4 linked regions of the Homo sapiens genome follow. The protein of the gene in region 3 interacts with the protein of the main gene of each other region in a pairwise test. Each region holds a gene or a part of one and is shown on either strand. Other genes may lie near its edges.

Region 1 (7,331 bases), on a different chromosome or scaffold from region 3:
CTGGGCAGGGGGTGCACAGGGCAGCCCCACAGCCAAGAGCTATGTGACTCCAGATACCAAGTGCGCCAGTGCTGAGACACCCTCCTCTGCGCCACGAGCATGGGCACAGCCCTTGGGGGTCTACTGGGCCAAGGGGAAGGCAAGGGAAGGCAGGTGTGTGCACGCTGGGTCATTCTCCTCTCTGAACAGCAGGGACATCATTCCCTAATTACACTGTCCCACGAGGGAAATCTGAAATCCTGCCAGGAGAAAATCTTTGAGAAAAGAATAGATTTTTTTTTTTTAAGAAAAACTGCCTAAGTTTGTCTATTGCAAGCTCTCAGGGCCAGGTATCTGATCCCTGTCCAATGAAGGTAAGAGCAGGAGGTGGCGGGGGCTGGGGTACTGCCACCTGCCCGTCTCAGCTTACCCGGCTGAGCTTTCTCAGCTCAGGGTCTCCTTCTCACAGGCCCCTTCCAGCCTGTCCCCCGCCCTGGCCCTGCCCTCAAGCCTCGGCCTACTTCGGCTCCTCGCCCCTTCCCCACCCCTTCTCTTTCTCGGGCCTGTCTACCCTCACTCCCCCAGCATCTGAATCAATGCTTTTGAAAGACTGCCCCCTGCCGGAGACAAGGGGCGAGGACACGCTGGGCCCGGGTGCTCCAGTAGGCGCCAGGGCGCGCGGGAAAGGGAGCCTGCTCTCTGGGGCTCAGAACTCAAGAGAGAAAGAAAAGACAGAGAACAGGCGGTCCCAGTGCACATTCAGCTAAGAACATTATCTCCTCACTCCATCACCCCTAAAATTAGCTCCAACACAGAGCACTGTGCCTTGGCACAGAACAGAGCCACTTAAACAGAAGCACAGTCCCCAATTCCTCAACACTGGAACAACCGCCCAGCCCCAGGCCTGCTGGAGGGGACCTGGCCCTTTCTCAGGATGGAGATTCTCCAAGCGTGGTAGGGTGAGGACGCTGAGGCTTAAAAAAGAGATGCAAACCCGCATTCTTCGCGGCTGGTCGGTTATCCCAGCTCTCTCCTCTCTGAGCCATCCCAGCAAATCACACCACCGCTTGGCAATTGTCTACAAGTTAACAGTTTTCAAAGGATTTTCACTCTTTACCTCCTGTGATCCCTTTTGCCCACTTGCCCAGCCTTGGGCTCCAGCCAGGGAAAAGAAGGAGGAAGCTGCTCCGACAGCGTGCCCCGACATCCTTGACACTATGCAAGACTGGAGGTGCGCACGGTAGCAGTAACCATCCCAAACTCGCAAGCATTATTCTGTGAGTTTGAAGCCATTTTACATTTGTTAGACTTTCAACATCCTTCATCTAGCCTCCTCCTCTCATCTTCTCTCCTCTAAAGTGGGCTATTTTTCTTTAATTCCCAAATTCCAATAGCAGATGTAAAAGTTAGGGCTAACGCATCAGATCACGAACACAAGACTGATGTGTCCAACAGCAGAAAAAGCTAGTCCAGAAGTTTAAGCACATGGTCCACTTGACTAACCACCACGTGGGACCCTCAGGGCCCCTGGTCCCCAGGCAATGGCAGGGACACCAAGGCCAGGTCTACCCTCAAATCCTTCCCAATGGCACGACAGACCGCTGGGGGACCAAGACCTACAATCTAAGAAAATCAGATTGGAGCTGGCTAGCCTGGTGGAGGGTGGCTAGCCTAGGTCTGCAAAGGGCACAGGAAAGATGGGAAGGAGAAAGAACCCCAAATCCCCCATGTCGGCAGCAAAGGAGAGACCCTTACTGGTACCACCGATGGTGTTTCCATGCCAAAGGCGAGGGGTTGGCGGGGTTCTAAATTGAAACTTCTATATAGACTCGAAGAGGCAGTGCACAAGAGGGTGGGAAAGCTGACGATCTTCCAGAACGACACTTTGAGAGGCAGGAGGGAAGTAAGGCTTGGGTGGCTGGAAAAAAAAAATCCAATCCAGCTAACAAGTCTTTATGTAGCATCTCCTAGTTCCTAGCACTAGGATGCAACAGACCTGGAGTCTGACCGGGAATGCGAGTAATGACTGTATAACAGAGAAGAGAGACGAGGGGCTTTTAAAAAGTTACTCGGAAATTTTTTTGTTTTTTTTTTTTTTTAAGGCAAAGTGTGAGAGCTGTGGCCAGGGAGCTGCTGCACGGAGGGGCATGAGCTGAGAAGGGCCTGGCCTGGGACGGGGAGGACAAGCAGTCTCTGCTAAGGAAGGTATTTCCCGCGGCCGAGCAACTGGGAAGAAGGAGACCCCAATGACCCAGCACTAAGATCGCCGGAGCGAAAGGAAACAGAGGTGAGGAGGACCCAGGCGAGGTGCCTGGGTGGAGGGCAAGGCTTCCATGTTGGCCAAAGTCGTGGAACGCTTGGACCTGGGGAACCGCAAGGCCCAGCTCGTTCCGAGGGGAACCCAAAGGCGCGCTGGGGAGAACTCCGGGAAGCGCGGGGCCCGGCCACCCTAGGACGCTAGGGTCGGGGGCCCCCAGGCGGCCCAGGGCAGGGCTTGGCAGGGGCCCGGGGGCGACCGTTAGGAGCGCGGGGGTGGAAGGCAGCGCGCCGGCCCGGGAGGACGGCGTGCCCTTCAGGGAGGGGCGCCAGGTGCGAGGGGGGCGAGCGGTCGCCCCCTAAGCCGGGCGCCGGCCTCCCGGGGCCTCCCCGAGGCTGGCCGGCTCTGGGGGAGGGTCCCGGCGGCGGGGATGGGCCGGAGCGGGCGGGAGAGCGGGAGGACGCACCGGGCTGCGGCGGCCTCGGGGAGGAGACGGGGGAGGGTCCTCGCTGGCGGCCCGCGCGCTGGCTCCGGCGCTTCTCTAGCTCGCGGGCTCGGCGCGGCCGCCGCGGCGTCGGGGGCGGGCCTGCCCCGGGGCTGGGCTGCGGGCCGGGGGCCGCGGGGCCACTGGGCGCTTACCGCGGGCGGCGCGAGGGTCCGGTCCCGGGGCGTGGGCGGCGCGCGGCGGGCGGGGGCCGGGGACGGCGACGGCGGCTAGCAGCGGGGGAGGGGGCGCTGGCGCTCCCGCGGCGGCCGCTCCTCTGTGTTTGTGTTTGTAGCAAGATGGCTGCCCGCCTCGCACCACGTGACGCGGACGCGGGGCCGCGGGGCCGCCCCTTCCACCGCCGCCGCCGCCGCCGCCGCCGCCGCCGCCGCCGCCGCCGCCGCCGCCGCCGCCGCCGCCGCCGCCGCCTCCCTCCGCGGCTCCGGCCCGCGCCACCTCTCCTCGTGCGCTGCTCGCGTGCCGCGCGCGCCACTGCCCGGACGCCCGTCGCCCCCGACAGCCCCCCCCCTCCCCGCCCCGACACGTGACCTGGGCGCCCGGCTGGTCACGTGACGGGGGCCCCCAGCTGCGGGCGGGATCGGCCCCAGAGCGGCCTCCTCTCCCCCACCTCCCCCGGCCCCGCGACGCGCGACCTCTGGGACCGAGGCCGCGGCCTCCCTGGCGGTCCGGTTTCCTCCAGGAAGCCCGCCTGGATGACAGGAGACAATAAAATCCAGAACCCTTCATCAGGCGTCCTGGGATGTGTGAAATAAGTGGCTCAGGCAAATAAGTTGACTCTCAGGAGCCTCTTTATTTTTTTAATTATTTATTTAATTATTGAGACAGAGTGTTGCTCTGTCCCCCAGGTTGCAGTCCAGTGGCGCGATCTCGGCTCACTGCAGCCTCCGCCTCCCGGATTCAAGTGATTCTCATGCCTTGGCCTCCCGAGTAGCTGAGATTACAAGCACACACCACCACGTTTGGCTTATTTTTGTTGGCCAGGCTGGTCTAGAACTCCTGACCACTCAAGTGATCCGCCTGTCTCGCCCTCCCAAAGTGCTGGGATTACAGGCGTGAGCCACCGCGCCCGGCCCCTATTTATTTATTTTTTTGAAGCAGGGTCTCACTCTGTTGCCCCAGCTGCAGTGTACTAGCCCGATCTCGGCTTACGGCAGCCTCCAACTCCCGTGTCTCAAGCGATCCTCCCATCTCAGCCTCCTGAATTGTTGGGACTATAGGTGTGCACCATCACACCCAGATAACTTTTTTATTCTCTGTAAAGACTGGGCGGGTGGCGTGTCTCATAACATTGCCCAGGCTGGTCTTGAACTCCTGGTCTCAAGGGATCCTCCTGCCACAGCCTCTTGAGTAGCTGGGACTACAGCTGTGTGCCACCACACCCAACTAATTTTTTTAATTTATTGTATTTGTTGTTTGTTTGTTTTCCAAGACAGAGTCTTGCTCTGTCGCCCAGGCTGGAGTGCAGTGGCGCGATCACGGTTAACTGCATCCTGCGCCTCCTGGGCTCAAGCAATCCTCCTGCCTCAAGCACCCTGAGTAGCTAGGACTACCAGGGCACACCACCACGCCCAGCTTTTTTTTTTTTTTTTTTTTTTTTTTTGTAGAGACAGGGTTTCCCCCATGTTGCCCAGGCTGGTCTTGAACTCCTGGACCCAAATGATCCTCCTTCCAAAGTGCCGGGAACTCCTGGACCCAAATGGATCCTCCTTCCAAGGTGCCGGGATGACAGGCATGAGCCGCCACGCCTGGCCTCTCAAAAGCCTCCGTTTCTCTTACAGAAGGATGTTAACACTGCTCTGCACCCAACCCCCGACCCCCAACTCCACACTCTTCCTTGAGTGCTGTAAGAATTAAAATAAGTGAATGTGAAAGGCTTTGACAAGAGAGAAACTGCTATGCAAATGTGAGGTGACTGAAACCCCCTTTGTTTAAAAAAAGGACTTTTCAAGAATGACTCGCTGAACTTTTTCAAGGCTCAAAAGTTCCGCGTATGCTTTCACCTTTTTCTTTGGAAGTTACTCCAGAATGTATACCTTACTTCCCAGAAGCCTAAAAGAGCTGTCGCCCAACACAATGTAATCCTCAAAACAAGGAAAAGGTAAGTTCATGACTTGGAATTTGAGTGCCTGGTGTCTTGCCATGATAGAGTGTTGACTTCAGGAACTATTATACCTGGAACAACTTTTGTTTCCCCCACCAAGTACCACTAGGCTTCTCTGCACTTGGAGTTTTCCTGTCTGTTTTCCTTTTTTAACTATTTTATTTATTTAAGAGACAGGGTCTTGCTCTGCTGCCCAGCCTGGAGTGCAGTGGCACAATCAGCTCACTGCAGCATCGACCTCCTAGGCTTAAGTGATCCTCCCTCCTCAGCCTCCCGAGTAGCTGGGATTGCAGGGAGTGGCACACCACCATACCCGGGTATTATTTATTATTTATTTTTTTTTTGAGAAAGAGTCTCACCCTGTTGCCCAGGCTGGAGTGCAGTGGCGTGATCTCAGCTCACTGCAACCTCCGACCCCAGGTTCAAGCAGTTCTCGTGCCTCAGCCTCCCAAGTAGCTGGGATTACAGGTGTGTGCTACCATGCCTGGCTAATTTTTGTATTTTTAGTAGAGACAGGGTTTCACCATGTTGGCCAGGCTGGTCTCGAACTCCTGAACTCAGGTGATCTACCTGCCTCAGCCTCCAAAAGTGCTGGGATTACAGGCACGAGCTACTGTGCCTGGCCCAGCTATTATTTTTTACTTTTAAATTTTTGTACAGACTGAAGTATCACTATGTTGCCTGGGCTGTTCTCGAACTCCTGGGCTCAAGCAGTCCTTCCATATTGGCCTCCCAAAGTGTTGGGATTACAGGCATGAGCCACTGTGCCTGTCCTGCTGTCTGTTTTTATATTTTATTTAATATTTTAATTTTTTTCGAGACGGAGTTTCGCTCTGTCGCCCAGGCTGGAGTACAGTGGCGTGATCTCAGCTCACTGCAACCTCCACCTCCTGGGTTCAAGTGATCCTCCCACCTTAGTCTCCTGAGTAGCTGAGACTACAGACAGGCGCCACCATGCCCAGCTAATTTTTGTATTTTTGGTAGAGATGGAGTTTCACCGTTTTGGCCAGGCTGGTCTCAAATTCCTGGCCTCAAGTGATCCTCCCGCCTTGGCCTCCCAAAGTGTTGGGATTACAGGCGTGAGCCACCGTGCCCTGCCAGCTAGCTTCCTTTCTCAAAGAGGGAGTTTATAGGCTTTAATTTCTGCTGACTTCAGCATCAGTGTTCACACTTTACAGTTGGTGGGGATTACTTGTCCAAAGTCACACATTGGTGTCCAGGAGATCCAGGGAGACCCCTCTGGTCTTCCACCGTGATTGTATTAGTCAGTTCTCATGCTGCTAATAAACCTTGTCCTTCCTTGAGCCCAGAAGCCTGGGCAACAAAATGAGTTCTTGACTCAAAAAGAGAGAAAAGTGAAAAAATATAATAAAAAACAAAAAAGAACTGTGAGTCTCCCATGAAGAATTTAAAAATTACAAAGAAATCACTTGGACCTAATTGGCCGGGCATGGTGGCTCACACCTGTAATCCCAGCACTTTGGGAGGCTGAGGCAGGTGGATCACCTGAGGTTGGGAGTTCAAGACCAGCCTGACCAACATGGAGAAACCCCGTCTCTACTAAAAATACAAAATTAGCCAGGCGTGGTGGCACGTACCTGTAATCTCAGCTACTAGGGAGGCTGAGGCAGGAGAATCGCTTGAACCTAGGAGGCGGAGGTTGCGGTGAGCAGAGATCACGCCATTGGACTCCAGCCTGGGCAACAAGAGCGAAACTCCATCTCAAAATAAAGAAATCATTTGGAGCTAATGTGTTTTTGTTTGTTCAGGTGCTGCTCTGTAAAATGTCTTGGTCTGTGTTCTAAATTTGCAAACTTTTTAACTAAACAAAGAGATTTGTTTGGAAGGTTAATGGAGATGAAAGAGTGGTCTCACGCAGACCAAACAGCCAGCCTCTGCCTTTCTTTTCTTTTTCTTTTCTTTTTTTTTTTTTTTTTTTTGAGACAGAGTCTTGCTGTGTTGCTCAGGCTGGAGTGCAGTGGTGCAACCTCCGCTCCTCCGGGTTCAAGCGTCTTGTATTTTTAGTAGAGATGGGTTTTGCCATGTTGGTCAGGCTGATCTCAAACTCCTGACCTCAGGTGATCTGCCTGCCTCAGCCTTCCAAAGTGCTGAGATTACAGGCGTGAACCACCGTTCCTGGCCCTTTTTCTTTCTTTCTTTTCTTTGAAACGGAGTCTCCCTCTGATGCCCAGGCTGTAGTGCAGTGGCACGATCTTGGCTCACTGCAAGCTCCGCCTCCCGGGTTCATGCCATTCTTCTGCCTCAGCCTCCCGAGTAGCTGGGACTACAGGCACCCACCACCACGCCTGGCCAATTTTTTGTATTTCTAGTAGAGACGGGGTTTCACCGTGTTAGCCAGGATGGTCTCGATCCCCTGACCTCGTGATCCACCTGCCTTGGCCTCTTAAAGTGCTGGAATTACAGGCATGAGCCACCACGCCCGCCCCGCCCCCACTTTTTTTTTTTTAATGGCAGATTCCTCTTCAGTG
Region 2 (7,026 bases), on a different chromosome or scaffold from region 3:
GAAAAAATGAAGAATGTTCCTCCTTTTCTCATCTAATTTAATAAACACTTTTGAATAAAGCTCAGACCCACCTAGAAAAACCCACAATCTATTCAGGTGAGATATGTGTAAAAAAAATTACAATAAAATGTGATACATAAAACTAATAAAACTTAGAGACCATTTGCCTAAAGGAATCATGAAAGGGTCACTGAGACACAGTTTTAAATAACATTGGACAATCACCAGTTGTAGAAAAGGGCATTCCAGGCAAAAGGGTGTGTAACTGTATGGAAGCAATAATAAGTACAACATTTTCAGGAAATAAGGAGAATTTGGTGTGACTAGGCCTAGATGCTTGTGGGGAGGCCAGGCTATAAAAAGATGTAAAGTCTAGGCTGTAGAGAGCTATGGAAGTCATGTAAAAGAGTTTGCAGTTTATTCTGCGGATGATGAAAAAATATTAGACATTGTAAGCAGGTGAGATTGTTAGAATATTTGCATTTATAATCAAAGATGTAGTAATATCATGGGTGAATGAGATGGGGAGAGAATAAAGGCAAGAAAACGTATTCAGAAACTACTTCAGAAGCCCAGGTGAGAGATAACATGGCCTTCAACTACAGGGTAGCAGAGGAAATGGGAGGAATAGACAGGTGAAAGGCAACTCAGAGGTTGGCTTGGGTGACTGAGTTGAAATGAGGTCAGAACAAGGGACAGGGAGTTTCTAGCGTGGGTATTTGGGATGTACATGGTTGCTACGTATTTCTGTCAACAAGGTGAGCTGAAAGTACCTGTAGAATATCTCCAAGGAGAACATACAAAGGATAACTAGAAACATGAGCCTGAATGTCAGGGTTGGGTGGAGCTAAGGGAATGATGGTGAGATTCATCAGCAAGCTAATGAAGACAGTGGCAGTGGAGGCGAATACAGACAGTGAAATTCCCTAGGGAGAGCTGTGATGTGGCTCAAAAGAGGGCGCAAAACAGTGCTCCAGGGAGCACAAACATTTAATGGATAAGAACAAGGTAATGAAGAAGCAAAAGGAACAGGGTTCAGAAAACCAGAAAAGCCAGTGCCCTGAATGTCTAGGGAGGGAGATTTCTAAAAGCAAATAGTCAATAACATCAGCAACTTTTCCTCTGGTGACAGTGTACTTATTTCTTTTAGTGAAGTAAACTCTGATTCCCCATCCTGGTGTACATATTTTTTTTTTTGAGACAGGGTCTCACTCTGTCACCCAGGCTAGAGTGCAGTGGTGCGATCATAGCTCACTGCAGCCTCAAACTCCTGGGCTCAAGCAATTCTTCCACTTCAGCCTCCCAAGTAGTTAGGACTACAGGTGCACACCACCACACATGACTAATTTTGTTTTATTTTTATTCTTGTTTTTTTGTAGAGATGGGGTCTTGCTATGTTTCCCAGGCTGGTCTCAAACCTCTAGCCTCAAGTGATCCTCCTGCCTTGGCCTGCCAAAATGCTGGGATTGCAAGCGTGCGCCACCGCACCTGGCCCTGACATATATACTTTAAGCAGTCAAAGTATTTGGTCCTTTTTCTTTCTCTTTCTCTGCCCCCTGAAACTCTTAAAAGGAAGTTAGGGATAGTTGTCTGGAACATCCCAGTTCCTTATCATAATGTTAAATGTGCACCAGAGCTGGGGGACATTTAAGAGCCAGACACCATGATCTAAAAGATGCTAAATAAAGGTATCTGCTGAAGGTAGGAAAGCACTGGCTTTGGTCTCATTAGTTACCTGTAAACCCGACTTGACAGGTGCACTCATAGGTATCCCGGCTGAGCATATGGCATGTGCCGCCATTCAGGCAAGGTCGAGACACAAAGCATGGATGAGATGTCGAGTACTGGCAGTCCTCTCCTGTAAACCCTGAGGCACATCGGCACGTGGCTTTCCCCAGCATGGCCTGGGCCACACAAGTCCCACCATTCTGGCAGCGGTTCTTCTCACAGGGGTCTCGATGTTGACAATATTCCCCCAAGAAGCCTTCTGGACATCTGTATGGAAAAGAGAAGAGTCCATGAAAACACCTGACTTCTTGTAAGTCCAAAAAATTACAGTAAAACAATACAGTCCAATCAAGAAAGCACGAGATTGTGAATCAACAGACCTACAAGGACCACCTATAAAACTGCTTCCCTTTAGAAGAAAGAGTCCTTAGAGAACTTAACCACATACTCCCATGTCCTTTTGAGTCCTGGCAGGTGACAGAGTATCAGGTGTATGGTCTAGCAGGGTCTGCCATGGCCAGTCAACATGACCCTTATTCAAACGCAAAATGCACCCCAGCTTTTTTTCATGTGTGTACAGGTTGGGATGGTGTAACAGCACCTTTTTTAGAGCACTGTTCGTACTTGTCTGCTTAAATTCATTAACTTTCTCATTTTGACTAAGCCATTTGATAGGATTAAGATGTCCACAATATAATGCATGAACTTGACCCTATTATCCCCTCCAATTTAAAATATGTAAGATATCATGTGCTTTTCCTCAATTAAGCATTGAGAAATAGTAAGTGCTTCTTTCTCTTATTTCCACTGAAACATCAATTGGATGATACCTAGTTTTCTGGGTTATGTTCAGGTGGCTGACATTACAACGGAAAAAGGGAAAGGAGGTACAGGAATGGGGAAGAGTTCAAAGGGATATTTAAAAATCTGTTAATATTTAAGTAGGCATTTTTAACCAAATAAAAAGACACAAAATATAATTAAAATAACATAAAATATCTAAGATACCATATAAACACCAAAGTCAAGGAAGGAATCAATTGAAGAATAACATTCTATGATATTTTCCACATTGAGGCACTGAGGAACCTTTTTACATGCCACCCCTTGATTCATAAGATGTACAACCATTTCAAACTGTGTGTATTATTTATGACAATTTTCTCTGAACAATATCAAAAAGGCATGGTAAGTCTCCATTTTCATAATGAAGTTGTTTAAATGGAATCTCTGAGAAGCATTTAAATTAAGAAACACAAACACTTTGATTCTAACTATAAATGCTGCTATATATTTGGCTGGTGCCCCAAATATGTGATTCAACTTATTCCTCGTTTTAGTTTTCAGGGACTAGAAAACTGAATCTAGTAGGCTGTTCCACCATTACCTCAAAGATTACACATTTAAACCAAACTCTAAATCCCCCTCTCAAAAACCAGCTTTTCTGTGCCCAAGCCTTGTTGTCCTGATTTTCCTAATCATTGTGACCTGAAACATTGGGGTCATGAGTGCTTTTGTCTTTGACAGTCATATCCAAGACCTTTCATTAACCATTGGTTGGCAAGGCTAGCTAGCAGGGGTCACAGTTACTGAGAAAAGAGGGAAGGCCAGATACTAGGGAACTAAGACAGAAAATGCCCAGAAGAATTGTGTAGTAGCTAAAATGGCTAAAGGAGAAAACAGGGTGGTGAATAGCTATAGTGGTAGTGAGGTAACTGGCCACAGCCTCTTCACCCCTCCCAGAGCTGCATAAGATAAGCATGGCAGAGCAAGGAGCGGCTAAGGCTCTGGGCATCTTCATGAGTAGGTGTAGCTACAGACCAACAGGCAGTGAAGAAAGTTCATAGCACTGAAACCAAAGATGGCATGCAGGTGACTGTGAGGAGTCTGTATCAAGAAGGTCAGAAGGTCTGGTTTGGAGTTCTGGTGCTGTGACCTTGGACAAGTTACTTATCTTCATTGACTATCCATTTTCTCACATTGTAAATAGTTAATAAGGTCACCTACATCATGAGATTATTCTAAGAACTGAACAAAATCAAGTATGTAAAAAACCTTATAAATGTTAAAAAGTTTTGCAAGTGGGCTGGGCACAGTGGCTCACACCTGTAATTCCAGCACTTTGGGAGGCTGAGGTGTGAGGACCATCTGAGGTCAGGAGTTTGAGAATAGCCCGGCCAACAAGGTGAAACCCTGGCTCTACTAAAAATACAAAAATTAGCCAGGGTGGTGGTGCACGCTTGTAATCCCAGCTACTCGGGAGGCTGAGGCATGAGAATTGCTTGAACCCGGGAGGCGGAGGTTGCAGTGAGCCGACGAGATTGTGCCACTACACTCCAGCCTGGGCAACAGAGTGAGATTCCATCTCAAAAAAAAAAGTTTTGCCAAGTGAAAACATCTTTTCTCTCTTCTTTGTGCTTATTGAGGAAAATACAATGCCCCATCCAAATCACAGCTTGATTTGAGAATAGTTTCTTGTGTTGGTTTTTTGAAGTGGAGGAGCAAAAAGTGCCAATGTAGCATAGCTAAAATTAACTCTGAGATATATTATTAAAAGCATTTGCAGCTTATTCAAGAAATGTGTTATGAATGTTAAAAACTGCAACACAATTCTCACTCACAGTGCAGCCCTCTGGGCATTATTAGATGACTCTTCATTCTCCCATATGGGAATTATGCACCTTCTAAATAATGGCAAATTTTTAAACGTGGGTGGGCTTTGCTCAGCTTTGCTCCTGAACTATTACACCACCCTAACACTATCATGTGGCATATGCTAAGAGAATGCAAAGTCATTTAAATGGTAGCATCATAAACATATAATGGAAATATAAGGTTCCCAGGAAAACAAAAATGAAGCAAAATGGAAGTTTCTAAAGCTAAACAGATGTATTTCTGAATTATTTGTTTCTACAGTTTAATTCACATTGTTGCTCCCTATCAAGTATGGAAAAATAAGTTTTAACCTAAGATATATTTAAGAAATCAGTAAAACCAGAGATTGACAAAGTACAGTTTGCAAGTCTAATTTGGACCACTGCCTGTTTTTGTTTGGCCTGTGAATAGTTTTTTACATTTTTAAATGATTAGAAAAAAAGAACAAAAGAAGGATATTTTCTGACATTTCAAAATTATATACAATTCAAATTTCAGTGTCCATAAATAGTCTTACTGGAACACAGCCATGCTCATTCATTTATAGATTGTCTATGGCTGATTTTCCACTACAACAACAGAGTCAAGTAGCTGTAATGAGACCACAAAGCCTGCAAAAATAATTACTCTCTGGCACTTTACAGAAAAAGTTTGCCAACTTCTGAGTAGAGAACATATGAAGGCTAATTCTATAAATACCATCCAATATGCTTATTAATAATGATCGGTTTCTGATAGGAAATCAACCTTATTAGTTTCCACAAAGAATATTAAACTTATAATCGTTCATTCACACAACAATTAGTAAATGCCTATTATGTGCCAGGCATTTTTCCAGTGCTAGAAAAATTCTTACACTCTTGGAGTTTACATTCTAATAGCGGAAGACGAAAACAAAATTACTAAGTAAAAGATGCACAATAGATGGAGTTAAGTGCTGTGAAAAAAAATTAAACAGGAAGGAATGGAGCTGGGGATGAGGGTGTGGGGTGAGCAAAGAGAAGTATCTCAGTTTAGAATAGGAAAATCAGAGAAGACCTTCACTGACAATACTTGAGTTGAGACCTAAATAAGGTGAGAGTAATCATGCAGGTATCTTAGGAAAACACATTCATGAGAAAGGGAACAGCAAATGCAAAGGCCATAACACAGAGAGCAGCCCTAGCGTGTTTGAGAAACAGCAAGAATATCTGGAGCAGCAGAAAATAGATGAGAGCTGTAACTGGGATGTGGATCAATTGGGGCCTTTAAGCCACTGTAAAGAAAGACTTAGGGTTTTCCTCTAAATGGGATAATACTTACATATGAGGTACAACAGACTTACTCTCCTAAAGCCCGTGTACAGAACCATATATTTGCTTTACGTGAAACTAGACCTACTGTATTAATAAAGTTTGATTTCTATTTAAAATGTTTTAGAGGGCTGGACATCAGCTTAGTTCTTTACTTTTACCTTAGAAGATATACAAGTCTCTTTTAACCCACACTTTCATGAGGTCCCATTTCCCTTTCCAAATTATTGTTTCACAGCTAACCTTCTATGACTGTAGCCTAATTTCAGATATTCCTCTTTCTTTTCCATCTACTTCTTACTTATCCCTCTGCAACAAAACTTTAATTCTAATTATTGTTTAGAAACTGTTTTCTAAAAACAATGACTTTCCTCTAGTCAAGTTCAGTGGTCTCATCTGAAACTTCATAAGGAAATTCTCTCTCCTATAGGGAGAATTGCTAACCACTCCATGTACCGTTTTAATCATTTTACCTTGGCTTCTATGCCTCCCTCTGTCTAACTCAAAACCCAGTGAAGTCTTAGTCTGGATTGCTGATTTCTCCTTCTTCCCCATCTATTATGGCCACCCTAATGTTTAAGTCTGGACTGCACTGCTCTTTCTCTCAAATGCATTTGTTACTGTTGTTGTTCACTTGGTTTTAAACAACTTCCTTCCTGTAACTGACTCCAAAATACACTGTTCCAGTCCCATATGTTCAGTTTTCTAGAAGTCATCTCTCTATCCTAATATGTGCTGCCACTATTTGAAACTAAACATTTGTAAAAGGAGATCATCTTCCCAAGAAACTTTAATTATTCAATTTTTCTAAGGCTTCCACACACAATTTAAAGTAACTTCATCTCTTTAAGTTGTATATAATTTATTACCACATTCTGACAAGACTTGTTAACTGAATTCCTATAATACTTATCATTCGTGTTCACAGTTTCCTTTTTGATACAAATTCTGATCATCTTAAAAGCCTCAGGCCAGACATCATCTTGTTGCTGGCTTTTCCCCCATTTCCAGCCATCCTTGGAATAACAGAACCTTCAGATTCAAGAAATTTAATTTCTATCCAATTAAGTAATCATTTCTAAAATATTTCTAAAAGATGATCACCAGCCTCTGCTTGAATACAAGCATGTAGCATGGTGCCGGATAAATCTTGAGAATTTAATAAATGCTTGGAGTTATTATTGTTCTGCTCTTAAGAGTACAGACTCTGGAACCAGACCACCTGGATTTCAATCCCAACTCCACCATTTACTCAATGTGTAGTCTTGGGCAAGGTACTAAACTTCCCTGTCGTAAAAGAGATGTAATAACAGTGCCTACTTCATAGGATTTTTAAATAAGGGTAAAGCAC
Region 3 (7,026 bases):
CCAAGGTAGGCTGTGCCCTTACCTTACACAGGGCTTCTTTTCCAACAGGCTGCCCTCGGGGGGATGTGGGGGTGAGTTTCAAGGGTGGGGCCTCCGGGATTTGTCCCTGTACCCCCTGGTCAGAGACCTCTTCCTCTTCTGAGCATTTGCTCAGGGGTTGCTCAAAGCCACCATCCAGGAGCTGGGGCAGGGGGTCTTCTTCAACGGAGATGATTCTGCGGAGCGGCCGGGGGTACGGACCCCCAGGCCCTGGCTCCCCGGTTCCTGGCTCCTCTTCTGTTAGGGGATATCCACTCAGGCCCAGGGAGCTTCTCCTTGGGATGCCAAACACCTCCTCCTCCTCCTCTGACTGGCTACTGGGGCGGGGAAGAGAGAAGAGTTGGGAGGATTTCACAAAATATTTCAATACGGGCTGCATAACAGCTTTTGTGACGAACAGATACCCAAGGAGCATCACACCTTTGGACAAGAGCAGTCCGGGAGAGGGAAAAACAAACCAGCCAGCATTCTGCAGCTCATTCATTCAACACGCTTCCACTAAGTGCCTGCTGCCACTGCTGTGGCAGATGATGACAAAGATGATGATGATGATGACCAAGTATTAAGTAAAGATGCCATTTACAGATGGACATAATCCCTGTCCTCACAGAATACTTGATTTAGTGGGGGACTAAAGCAATAATGACACAAATAAATACATCCTTTACAAATTGTGAGACTGCTGTGAAGGAGAAGGAAAGGTTGTGAAGAAACGTGTCTCAGACTCAGATTTTAATAAAGCGCCCCCGATTAACATTAGCAGATGACCTTGGCTCTGCCCCCAGCGCCAGCCCTTACTCACTGTGTGTCCTTAGGTAGGACACTCCAACTCTTCAGACCTTGCTGTAAAACGTGGCCCATCTGCTCTATTCCCAAATAAGTCAATGCATAAAAACAGACATGTTTGCAAAACATCCTCAGCAGTGTGAGGGGTGCTGTTGCTTTGGGAGGGCCCCCCACCTCCAGACATAGCAGGTCTGCTGGCTCACAGGCAGCTTCCCCCTAGACAAGAGGCTTTGGGTCAGAAGAAAGCCAGGCAGAGCATCTCCATCCACCTCTCCTTCCTCTCCCTTTCTCTTCCCCTTTCTGTATCCCTAGAAGTCACAATCAGGAGTAAGTGGCTCAGAGGCCTAAATATCTTCTAGAAGCATTTGAGCACTAAGGGCAAGGAGAAGCTGTAGGCAGTGCAGGGAATCGGGGAACTGGATGTGGGGGTCAATGCAGGGTCTGTATTTTCAGTAGGTTTTGAGAGCAAAGGCCTCACAGAAATTGTCTTAAAGGAAGTTTGACAGGGAGGACCTTAAGTCCAGAATTGAAACACACACACACACACACACGCATGCAAGCATGCACACAGACTAGAAAAGAAAATGGAATGGGGATGAAGCAGTGGGGTGATAGAGCCAAAGGAGAAAGGAACTAAATGAAGGACACAGAATATGCAGAACAGAGAAATACACTTTCTTTTGCTCCCTAATTTAAAATATGTATTACTCTTAAAGATCAACAGTAGAAAGGAAAAAGAAAAAAAAATGCAGGTATCACCATCCTGAAATTAACTGCGATTCTGCAAGATAAATTACGATATAGTGCTTGCTTGAAGAAAGGGTGAATTAGTTTGGATTCCTTGATATGAAAAATAAAGGATTTGCAGCAATTAAAGCACCTTTCCTTTGACTTATAAAAACAGTTTTAAAAAAGCCAAATGTCTTCTTTCCAGCAAACTTCCTATATATTGCATCAAGCTTATTAAGTGCTTATTTGTTTAAGAACACAATTGGTATTCCCATCTACTTTTACTCTGCTTACACACACACAAGTGACTATTTGTATGTACACATGAGCAACTACGCATACACACACACAGAGCATGTTTTTTCAAAGGCTTTGCAACCAGAAAAGAAATAGTCACTTAAACAGGCATTAAAACAAAGCATTTCTTGGAAAAAGCTTTCTGTCTGGGAAATTCTCAAGCACTACTGCCATTCTGTAATACCTGCATCACGGCATGACTGAGTTCATTTTTGGTTTTACCACCAAGTGCTCTCTGCCATCCGTAGGGACAGCAGCTACTTTTGTCAAAGTCTGCATTAGAATTCAGGGCTCACAATTTGTTGCTTACTTGATTATTGTCTGCTTCTTCCACTCAACCAGAAATTCAATGACACAGAGGTAGGTCCATTTGGCTCACTACTGTATATCCAGCAAAGAGCACAGGACCTCACACATAGTAGACACTCAATAAATATTTATTAAGTGAGCATTTAATAATGGAGATTAATGGTAGGACCTCATGTCTAATTTATTTTTGGAGGCTTTACAGAACTCAAAAGAATGTCTGGTACACAGTAGGTAATCAGTAAACGTCTGCTGAATCAATCAATCAATCCATTCCATTCTGAGGAACCAACAGGCCAACCACTATTGCAGAGATTTGGCTCCCAAATTGTATCTCATTATTCAGCTATTTAGAACAAGAATTCATGATGATCAGGCCCAAAGGTTTTACTGATGAGCTGATTTACATCTCCAGAGTCACTTCCGCTTTGCATATCTTTTTCATTTCATGCTTGCAGTCTTCAAGGTCTCTCTGGGTCTGATACTGAAGAGTCGGGATGCCTCTATCTCTCTGTGGCCATCTATGTGGACACAGCACATGCCAAAATGAAGAGTGGGCAGGGGACTGGTTTGTCTCTCAATGAGCAATGAGCCAACCCTTGGGTACTCAAGCTCAATCATGTGCTGCCCAAGAGCAACAAAATGTGTTATGTTTGAGTTAATTAAATATAGGTCATGGAAACGATCTGTCAAGCACAAGCCCTAGCCTTGTCTGTAAAAGGAGTTAACTATTGGAGATTCTATTTGACAGTTTAATTAACCTTCATAGCCAATATAGTCATGTTCCTAAAAAACCAAGTGCATTGGCCGGGCACGGTGGCTCACACCTGTAATCCTAGCACTTTGGGAGGCCGAGGCGGGCAGATCACGAGGGCAGGAGTTCAAGACCAGCCTGGCCAACATGGAGAAATCCCATCTTTACTAAAAATACAAAAATTAGATGGGCGTGGTGGCGCACCTCTGTAATCCCAGCTACTTGGGAGGCTGAGGCAGGAGAATCGCTTGAACCTGGGAGGCAAAGGTTGCAGTGAGCCGAGATTGCACCACTGCACTCCAGCCTGGGCAACAAAGCAAGACTCTGTCTCAAAAAACAACAACAACAAAAACCCCGAAACCAAGTGCATCCATTCTGCTCAGCAGACAGCAGTGTAGTGCTACCCAGCTACACACTCCCTCCCTCTCCCTTGACCCCTCTCCTCTGCTGCTCTGCAGTCCCTCTCTGCAAACACACAGTAGGGTGGGGCAGCCTCAGAAGACAATGGTCTGTCCTGTGGGGTTTGCTCTGCACATTCCCCCTCTGGCTTAGATGTCAGAACAGGGAGGGGCATGTGTTCCAAGATTTGAGGGGAGTGAGTGCAGCTGACCTCAGTTTCCGCACCTCTCAAGGGGTCAGCAGGCACTGAGTATGGGCCCAGAGCCAGCTCCCAATGAGCCTGAGAGGAATGAAGGGATGAGCAAGTGGAGATGACTTACCTCCTAAGAATCCCTCTGCTGTCCACATATTTGCCTATCACAGAGCCAGATCTCTTTTTCCAACTTGCCCTGGAAGCAGCTGTGTTTGCCTTGGCTGCCTTATTTTTCTGTAGAAACACAAAATGTCCTCAGATCCATGCCTATTTGCTCCGATGTTTGAACAGAAAAGGGCTCATGGTTCCCACCTCATAGACTAGGCTCTACACAAAACTCTGAAAGGAGTAGGCAGTGTTCTGGTCTCCCTGTTAGCGTCTAGCCACTCTTCCCTTTTGCCATCATCCCCTACCAGAATCCCTCCATCTCCTTTCCAGTCAGCTAATCAAATGAACAAGTGCACAGTTTACAGCCTGGGGCCCATCATGCTATTCACAGGAGCACTGATGATTTGTAAAAGGAAAAGAAGAGATAAGTGTTTAATGCATATTTTCTATACATATTTCTAATGCATCTAGAAAATATACATTAAACACTTATCTCTTCTGAAAAAATATATCTATATTTTTGAAACAGGGTCTTGCTCTGTCTTCCAGGTCAGAGTGCAATGGCATGATCACAGCGCACTGCAGCCTCAAACTCCTGCACTCAAGCAATCCTCTAGCCTCAGCCTCCTGGGTAGCTAGGATTATAGGCGCCCTACCATGCCTGGCTAATTTTCTCATTTTTTGTGGAGATGGACTCTTGCTATGTTGTCCAGGCTGGTCTTGAATTCTTGGCCTTAAGTGATCCTCCTGTCTCACTCTCCCAAAGTATTGGGATTACAGGAGTGAGCCACCACGCCTGGTCAGATAGAAAAAAGAAAAAATATTTACAGGCATAAAAAACTCTGTGAATCTTTAATTCACACTCTTCTGTCTGGCTCCAATCCCTTTTTATTTCTAAAGCCTCAGATGTAATGAGAAAGTAACTAGCCAGGAGGATCAATTAACTCAGTGTTCTGTCCTGAGCTAGCATAAGGTAGTTCAGCTCTTTGGTGGAAGTAGGCTGGGTGTAGATAAACTACTAACATCTGTAACACAGGACCTGGGTGGAGCAGGGGTTTACAACCCCCTTTGCCTATGCTCCCTGACAGATGTCTTCCAGGAGATGAGGCGGGGGAGTTAGACTGCAGGAAATCTCTCTCGTTAATTAGCCATCCCATGATTCCCAGTGATCCTTAATGAGAGGAGGGGCTGCAATGCTCCCAGAGCCCCTGAAGGTATGGCTATGCTGATTCTAAATCAATCTTCAATTCTTATTGAATTTATCCCTTTCTTTGATTCCCCACAGAAGTTCTTAATTCCATACCCCTTTCAAAGCAGAATGAGTTTGGCAGGTAAAGGGAAGGGAGGTGAAGGGATTCGGGTGACATTTGGTTGGAAGTTTTAAAATAAATTCAGTGTTACTTCTAAAACAATTATAACCATTATCATCATCAAACAAACATGTGTAGGCTCAAGTCTTGCTCTAATAGTACACACAGGTGGGTGGCAGAGATGTTTGCTGCCAGTCAGCAATGGAAAAGAAACTGTGGCGTAATGCAGTCCCTCAGGGATTTGCAATTATAAAGCAGGTCAGATCTAATTTAGGGCAAACCAATTGCCTTCTGCTGACCATATCTAGGTCACCGTTCAGCTAAGGGTGCAATCCACATCATCCCCTTTCCAAGAATCTTTCTCAAAGATTCCTGTTGTATGGAGGGGGGATGGGAATTCACTTTCCTCGCGTGACAGCGGAGGTCATGGTCCAAGGCAGTAAATGACTTGCCCAGGGACCCACATGAAATTCATAGGATGGTAACCCTGATAATTAGGAAGTCACATCAATCAATTTGGCCTTCATTTTTCTTCCCTTCAAAGCACCCAGTGGCTCCTGTCTAAAGGGAAAGATGAGTAAGAACATGGAATCCTAGGTTTTGGCCAATGTGGTCCACAGTGAAGACCTTCAAATAAATATAGGATTTCATGTCGTTTAGGAAAGTGTGTGTGTGTATATATATATATGTACATACATATACACACACATATACACATACATACATATATATGCACACAGACTATATATATATAGTTTATATATATATTTATATAATATATATTATATATATATTTATATTATATATAAATATATATAATATATATTATATATTTATATTATATATATTATATATATTTATATTAATATATAATATATATTATATATATTTATATTATATATATATATATAAACTGCAGAATGCACTTTGGGGTTCACAGCTGGGAATTTCATCCGTTAATACTAGAGGTGGAGAGGGCAGTCCAGATGACCTCAAAGTGCTTAGCAGTTTTGTGATTCTACGACTCATATATATATATATATATGCACACACTACATATATATAGAGAGAGAGACATGGTACTCAGGTATGGAAGAGTAGGGGTCCCTATAGGATAGAGAAAAATTGTTCATAAAATCAAGTATGAAAACAGTGAAATACACATTTCTAATGTGGTCTATGACAGTATAAAATGCAAAATTTTCATCGAGATAAAAATTTAAATGAAGAAGAACGGTGTGAGCATTTTGGTTTAGAAGTGATAATGACATTTCAACTGCGCCATCTCATGGATAGAACTATCATTTCTGCATCCAAGAAATGTGCGACCCTCCCAAATATTTCAGTCTTGTTGTGCCAAGAGGAAACTGCATTACTCTGTGGAAAATTAACACGTTGTTACCCAGTAGGCCACCCTGAATTTTTATTATTTGCAAAACGTTTTCATGCCGTCATCCTGCCAAATAGATCCCGAGTGTCAGGACATTGCTGGGCCAGTCTCGACATGGATCTGGCTGTCCAGTGGACCACAGCCCTTGGTCCCCCACAGGTAAGGGAGAACTGGCCAATTACCTGAAAACATATGTCCCGTTCATCCCGAAGGTGCTTGTTCCTTTCCCTGTGGATGGTAAAGGGGAATCTATTCAAACATGGAGTTTGCAGTTGACAGATCCAACGGCAGCCAATTTGCTATTCAGATGGGTGCAGGGGAAGGTGTGGTATGGAAGACAGGGGAGTCTGTGGAATCTCCTTCCATAGGGATGTGATTAATGGTAGAGGATAGTTTTTGTGTACAGATAGGTACACACAGATGTGGGGGATAGACTGAATGCCCTTGAGACACCCGTGGCCCATCAGGATTATGCATGGCCTCTCTTATTATTAGGGGCACTGCCTACAGAGGGGACCTCAGCATTCCAGCTCCACCTGGGAGCTTCCTGTTGGGCTCCCTCTTTCTTTCTCTCTGTGCACCATTCATTCATTCATTCACTCATGCATGCATGCACGCATTCACTCAAATGTCTCCTGAGCACCCACTGCATGTCAGGCACTCTTCTAGCCATCAAGGTCACACCAATGACCAAAACAAAAAGTTCCTGCCTCAC
Region 4 (7,026 bases), on a different chromosome or scaffold from region 3:
ATCCCAGCTACTTGGGAGGCTGAGGCAGGAGAATCGCTTGAACCTGGGAGGCAGAGGTTGCAGTGAGCCGAGATCGTGCCACTGCACTCCAGCCTGGGCAACAGGGACTCTGTCTCATAAAAAACAAAAAACAAAAAAAGAATGAGGTTTGTACAAGCTACAACATGGATAAACCTCAAAAACATGCTAAGTGAAATAAGACAGCCACAAAATGACACATATTTGACAATTCTAGTTACAAAATATGTCCTGAATAGGCAAATCCATAGAAACAAAGGAGAACAGAGGCTATCTGAGGCCAAAGAATTGTGAGTTTCATTTCGGGGTGAGGAAAATGTTCTGGAATTAGATAGTGGCAATGGCTGCACAACTTTGTGAATATACTAAAAACCACTGAATTGGACACTTTAAAAGCACACATTTTATGGTATGTGAATCATATCTCAACAACAAGAAAAAAAATAGTAAAACAAAAAAAAATGGATGAAGGCAGAGCCTGCACTCCCTGGAACTCCATTTGGAAGGTGCAAGTAGAATGGAAGAACTGGAAGGCCGGACACGATGGCTCACACCTGGAATCCCAGCACTTTGGGAGACCGAGGCGGGCGGATCACCTGAGGTCAGGAGTTCAAGATCAGCCTGGCCAACATGGAAACCCCACCTCTACTAAAAATACAAAAAATGAGCTGGATGTGGTAGCAGGCGCTTGTAATCTCAGCTACTTGGGAGGCTGAGGCAGGAGAATCCCTTGAACCTGGGAGGCGGAGGTTGTAGTGAGGCCGAGATGGCGCCAGTACACTCCAGCCTGGGTGATAGAGTGAGACTCTGTCTCAAAAAAAAAAAAAAAAAAAAAAGAACATGGAAGAACTGGAGAAAATGTGTCAGGAGATGGCAGCACAGGCAGAAAGTCATGAGCCTTCCTTGGTCCTCCCTTCCATCTCTAAACTCTGGGCATTCACCAGGCAAGTTCCCATCAACTGTCTCCATACCTTCTGAATGGATTCAGCTCCCATTCACATCACCAGCTGGAACCTCACGCCTGAACCCTGCTCTCATACCCAAATGAAATTGTGAAGCAAGTTGTCAGCTGGAAACAGTTTTCTACAGGCCCTGCTTACCTGCTCATTCCCATGAGTAATCAAAATTGAAAGTAACACATTTCTTTCCCAGTTATTCCTTGGTTTAAATTTTTTTCTCAGACCAGGAAGTTTCAAGTCATTCCCTTCTTCTGTTTCCTTGATCTCTTATATATACAACTTCATCATATACAACGTCATCAAGTCTAACCATCCATTTTGTGGAAGTACTTCCAGAGCTTTTTCTTCTATTTGCACAACTCACAGCTGCTTTAACACATTCCTGGACCCTGTTAACAGGTTCAGCCGCAGCACACCCAGCACGGTGCCTAACATGAAACAGAGCCTCATTAAAATGAAGTTTGTCATTTGACATGTCCTGCACACAGTGGTGTGCTGGTACATGTTTAATAGCCAGCTCTCGGGGGAGGTGGACCCCTGTTTGTAGCATTTGCCTATTCCTATGCTGTAAATATTCCTCCCAGAGCTGATTTCAAACTACCAAAGTGACATTAACGAGGGCACAAAACTCCTGAAAATTTTACAATTGAAATTTTGAGTTTTCACGAGCTCCAGCACAACTACTGCCTCTTCCCCGAATATGACTTTTATCAACACACTCTTCCTCAGTGGTTCCCTGCCATCCACTTCATCAAGTCCAAATCCATCCACACATATTTGAATGTCTTCCTGAATCTGGCCGCCTCCTATCACCTATGATTCCTTAGATGTAACCTATGTTTCTGACTAGGAATCTACCAACTGTGGCCTGAATAGGTTCTGATCACTTTGTTCATCTTTTTTCCTGCCGAGAATTTATGGTGGAAAGGACAAGACAGCTCTCAGGGACCTCTTTTATAAGGCCACTAACTCCATGTAAGAGGGTTTCATCTTCATGACCTCATCATCTCCCAGAGGCCTCACCTCTTAATATCACATGGATGATTAGGTTTCAACATACACATTTTGGGGAGACACAAACATTCAGACCATAGGTATTGGTTAGCTGTTGGAGCTGCATTTAACTCCCTAACTAGATTCAAATCCCTTGAAAGCAGGAAACCCCATACTTGTGTGACCCAGACAATGCTGAGCAAAAGGTGGAGACACAGTGGTGCTGACAATGTCAGTCCGCTGCTCCAAAGACGGAGAAACTTTCCACTAGGAAAAGACGTGCAAAACCTCTGGCTCAGCAAGGCAGGCTCCACACACATCCCTACTTTCTCCAACCCTAAGGGACTAAGACAGGTAGTACTCCAACACAAGCAAAGGACAGGAAAAGGACCAATAAACCCAAAGGTTCAGGGTGGGTGGCAGTGTGATGACTGATTTGGCAGAGTGGTGCCAATGTAAAAGGGACCGGTCTGCCCCTCAGAGCCTGGAGAGACCTAGGAACTGATGGAACCAGGAATTAGAGCTATCTGGTGGGGCTGAATAAAGGAGGTCAGGTCAAATGTTCCCCACCCCGTCCACTGCCCCTATGTGTCCAGATGGCCTCAGCAATCACGAGGTCTCCTTTCTGGGAAAATGGAACCAAAGAGGCCCTTGACTTGGGGGCAGGCTGGAGCAGACAGCAGGAAGGTGGTATACTGGTAACGCGGCTATGAAAAGGAATCTCAATACCAGACAGTGAGAACCTCTGTCCTGCTGCCCAGCTTGGCTCCCAGAATGCCGGTCCCTTGGCACACACACGGGGCAGAAAGAGGAGGACTCAATGGACCCTGAGGAAACACCTACATACTCTAATGTGTGCAGGCTGTCTTTGACCACACTGCAACCTGCCCCACCAAGCACCTGGAGCTCCCAATCAGCTTTGTGATGTCTCTTTTAAATCTTAGTGGTCAAAGATCACCAGCCATTTGAGGAAACCCTCTGTGAAAGAGGTGGCCTCCTGCCTCCCAGCAGCTGCCCTCCCTTCCTTCACAGTAATAGGACTTTTTTTTTTTTTTTTTTTGGCCAGGAACACGTACAACCAGAATTTAGATATTTGCTAGGCTTCTTTGCAGCTAGGCAAAGCCTGGAGAACAGGTTCTGGAAAACATAATTCAGTAGAAGCATCATATGACAAGGACCTTCCTTAACAGAGCTGTACATGCCTTCAGCCTTTCTTCCCTTCTGCTGCTAGAACTCAGAGACCCTCATCTTGGACTACAAGGCCAGAGTCTCACCCCAGAAATGAGAACTGGGTATCTGAAAATATCTGCAGCAGAGTCACCAACTGGCCCTAGCTTGCATGCCTCTACTCTAGCCTTTTACATGAGTGAGAAATAAACCATCTTTAGGTCATTGACAAACTTAGTGCAAAAGGACACAGTCCCCAATATGTAGAAAAACCAAACAGAAAAAGAATGAGATTAAATTATAATCGACAGTCTAAATATATAAAATAATATACACATGAAACAAGAACAGAATGCTAGGGAGGGGAAGAACAAATAGCCCTTCAATTTTCTAAAATTTATTTTTTGTAGAGATGGGATCTTGCTATGGTGCCCAGACTGATCTTTAACTCCTGGCTTCAAGCAATCCTCCCACCTTGGACTCCTGAAGTGCTGGGATTATAGGTGTGAGTCACTGTGCCTGGCCCCCCAGTTTTAAATGAAAAATTCATCAGAAGAGGTGGCAAAAAGTCAAGGAAAGCTTCCATACATGACACAAACAGGAGAAAAGATGGAAACTAGGTGGGGAGGGGGGAGGGACAGCAGCCAGAAGCTCAGTGCAGGAGGTCTGATAATAGGAGTTCCAGACAAAGAGGGCAGAGGGAACAAGAGTAAATTATCAAAGAAATAACTCAAGAAAGTTTCCCAGAGTGGAGGAAAAGTTTCCTGAATGAAAAGATACACACACGCAGAGGCACATCACCGTAAAATTTAGGAATGCCGGGGAAAAACGATCTTCGTCTCTACAGAAGAAAAAACAGGTCACGTAGAAAGGAATAAAGAACCTAAGTAGTAGTAAGATTTTTTTGTTGTTGTTGTTAGCTTTGAGCTCAGAACTAGCAAGACCTTTTTTTTTGAGATGGAGTTTCACTCTTATTCCCCTGGCTGCAGTGCAATTATGCCATCTTGGCTCACTGCAACCTCCACCTCCCGGGTTCAAGCAATTATCCTGCCTCAGCCTCCCAAGTAGCTGGGACTATGGGCACCCACCAACACGCCCAGCTAATTTTTGTATTTTTAGTAGAGACGGGGTTTCACCATGTTCGCCAGGCTGGTCTTGAACTCCTGACCTCAGGTGATCCACCCGCCTCGGCCTCCCAAAGTGCTGGGATTACAGGCATGAGCCACCGTGCCCAGCCAAAAGACTTTTTAATAACAACTCTAGACAAATATGTATTTAAAAACCAAGAATATTTTAGACATACATCAACATACTCTGTTAAAACAAAGGAGTAAGTTGAGAAAAAAACAGGAAATCCACAAACTAGCATTATAGGGCAGCCCCAGGACAAGAGCTGTGTGGCGGGCCCCAGGGAGATTCTCCCCTGGCCACGCATTGCGGGGTCACCTGGGTGGGAAGGAGGGAGGGGAGAAGAGTCTGGTGCTTGTGTTATGTTAAGAGCTTTCTGGAAGACCCTCCAGAGGTTTCCCTTTATGTCTCCTTGGCTAGACCCTTGTTACAGGGACACCCTAAGCTCATGGGAAGCTGGGAAGATGTAGTTTTTTAATTAGTACACTGATGCTTTGAGTGAAATGGGAGGTTCTGTTAGGAGAAGGGGGAATAGATATTGGGTGACAGGGTCGGCAACATTTGGCCTATATGAGTATGTTCCAGAGACAGCACACGCATGTGTGGTGTTTTGTTTTTTTTTTTTTTGGAGACAGAATCTTGCCCTGTTGCCCAGGCTGGAGTGCAGTGGTGCGATCTTGGCTCATTGCAACCTCCGCCTCCTGGGTTCAAGTGATTCTCCTGCTTCAGCCTCCCAAGTAGCTGGGATTACAGGCACCCACCACCATGCCAGCAAATTTTTGTATTTTTAGTAGAGACGGGGTTTCGCCACGTTGCCCAGGCTGGTCTCAAACTCCTGACCTCAAGCTATCCACTCGCCTCAGCCTCCCAAAGTGCTGGGATTACAGGCATGAGCCACTGCGTCCAGCCATGTTTGTTGAATGAATAAAATTAAAAAGGAAACAGAAAACAGCTCAGCATAACCTACACAAGAAGCAAAATCACAACAGGAGGCTTGATGAGGCTGCAATTGCCTCAGGCTAGAATCGCCAAATGAGCCTCCACTGTCAGAGACATGAAATGATGATGGCAAAGGGGTGGAGAAATCGGTTGGTGGAGGACCTAATAAGCACTGGGATGAGAATTTTTAAAAGTTAATAAACTGAATTGTTTTAGAGCAGTGAGATGGAAATTCTAAACACTTCTAGTTCAAGTACATATACAGAGGCAAATGTTTTTCACAACCTGAACACACCCATGTACCCAAGAACCACGTCAAAACACAGAACATTCCCAGGTGCCTCCCAATCCCGTGAGTCCTCTCTCCAGCCCTTATCCCCTCGAGAGTCCCCTCTTCAGCCCTTATCCCCCCGTTAGTCCCCTCTCCAGTACTTATCCCTTTGGCATGAGGATTTTTTTTTTTTTTGAGATGGGAGTTTTTTTGCCTTTCTTGCCCAGGCTGGAATGCAACGGCACAATCTCGGCTCACTGCAACCTCAACCTCCACCTCCTGGGTTCAAGTGATTCTCTTGCCTCAGCCTCCCAAGTAGCTGGGATTACAGGCACCCACCACCACGCCCGGCTAATTTTGTATTTTTAGTAGAGACGGGGTTTCACCATGTTGGCCAGGCTGGTCTCAAACTCCTGACCTCAGGTGATCCACCTGCCTTGGCCTGGCATGAGGATTTTTTTAAATGAGATTTTTCTTAATGGCTGCTCATAGAAAGTAGGGAGAAAGACAAAAATCTGTGTTTTTTGCCGGGCGCGGTAGCTCACACCTGTAATCCCAGCACTTTGGGAGGCCGAGGTGGGCAGATCACGAGGTCAGGACATTGAGACCATCCTGGCTAACACGGTGAAACTCTGTCTCTACTAAAAATACAAAAAAATTAGCCAGGTGAAGTGGCGGGTGCCTGTAGTCCCAGCTACTTGGAAGGCTGAGGCAGGAGAATGGCGTGAACCCAGGAGGCGGAGCTTGCAGTGAGCTGAGATTGCGCCACTGCACTCCAGCCTGGGCGACAGAGCGACACTCTTGTCTCAAAAACAAAACAAAACAAAAATCACAACAAAACAAAATCTGTGTTTTTTAAACAAGGAAGTTTTCAGGATCTAAACTTACACTTAACTTTCAAAGCATTCTCACCCTTTTATATCTCACTTTGGCATCATAGAAACGATTCTGGCGGAAAAGGTAGTTGCCAAACTCCCGTTCCGTAGCTGCCACTTTCAGGACCTTCTGAAGTGGAAATTGGTCTTGCTGCTCCTGAGGACCAGAGACAGGAATATTCAGCAAGGAAACCAAAAGCAGTAATGCCACAATGGAAGTGTTAGTACACGTGAGCCCAGGAGTTCGAGACCAGCCTGGGCAACATAGTGAGAACATGTCTCCATTTAAAAAAATAGTAATTGAAAGAAAGGAAGTGTTACTACAGCTGTGAGCTCTTCTTTTTCAGATCATGCACTTCTGTTTACAGCCTTCTGTGTTGGAGTCACCTCTGAATCTGACAGAAGCCACACCAGTGTTATAACCTGTCCCATTTTACACCCTAGAGCCAGAAGGAAGTCTACGTCTTCAGTCTTCCCCTGATGTTCTCTGAGGAAGCAGTGTCCCATGGAATCAAAAACTGACGGAACTTGCCAAGCACAGAAGTCAGTGCTCAAAACCACTATTTGGCCACCAAGCACTGAACAGGTCTTGGTTTGCTCAGGGCCCTGGCAGTCTTTATGGTCATGATGCTCTGCCCTGGCCATCTTCAGAGTCACCCATAGAGCCTCTCTGGTC

The links.
Region 1: the proteins of CRACR2A (region 3) and GIGYF1 interact in binary tests that used the Homo sapiens proteins (3 or more experiments, as listed by UniProt).
Region 2: the proteins of CRACR2A (region 3) and NOTCH2NLA interact in binary tests that used the Homo sapiens proteins (3 or more experiments, as listed by UniProt).
Region 4: the proteins of CRACR2A (region 3) and FKBP6 interact in binary tests that used the Homo sapiens proteins (3 or more experiments, as listed by UniProt).

Annotation. Positions count from the first base shown.
Region 1 is NC_000007.14:100,691,235-100,698,565, forward strand, and holds the start of GIGYF1 (GRB10-interacting GYF protein 1), read right to left. Parts: upstream 3,017-7,331; 5' UTR 2,876-3,016; exon of another isoform or gene 2,703-2,875; intron 1-2,702. UniProt on the Homo sapiens protein: May act cooperatively with GRB10 to regulate tyrosine kinase receptor signaling. May increase IGF1 receptor phosphorylation under IGF1 stimulation as well as phosphorylation of IRS1 and SHC1.
Region 2 is NC_000001.11:146,163,016-146,170,041, forward strand, and holds part of NOTCH2NLA (notch homolog 2 N-terminal-like protein A), read right to left. Parts: intron 1,996-7,026; coding exon 1,736-1,995; intron 1-1,735.
Region 3 is NC_000012.12:3,638,102-3,645,127, forward strand, and holds part of CRACR2A (EF-hand calcium-binding domain-containing protein 4B), read right to left. Parts: intron 6,540-7,026; coding exon 6,494-6,539; intron 3,738-6,493; coding exon 3,631-3,737; intron 2,679-3,630; coding exon of another isoform or gene 2,561-2,678; exon of another isoform or gene 2,268-2,560; intron 357-2,267; coding exon of another isoform or gene 354-356; coding exon 23-353; intron 1-22.
Region 4 is NC_000007.14:73,331,138-73,338,163, reverse strand, and holds part of FKBP6 (inactive peptidyl-prolyl cis-trans isomerase FKBP6), read right to left. Parts: intron 6,508-7,026; coding exon 6,388-6,507; intron 1-6,387. UniProt on the Homo sapiens protein: Has an essential role in spermatogenesis. It is required to repress transposable elements and prevent their mobilization, which is essential for the germline integrity.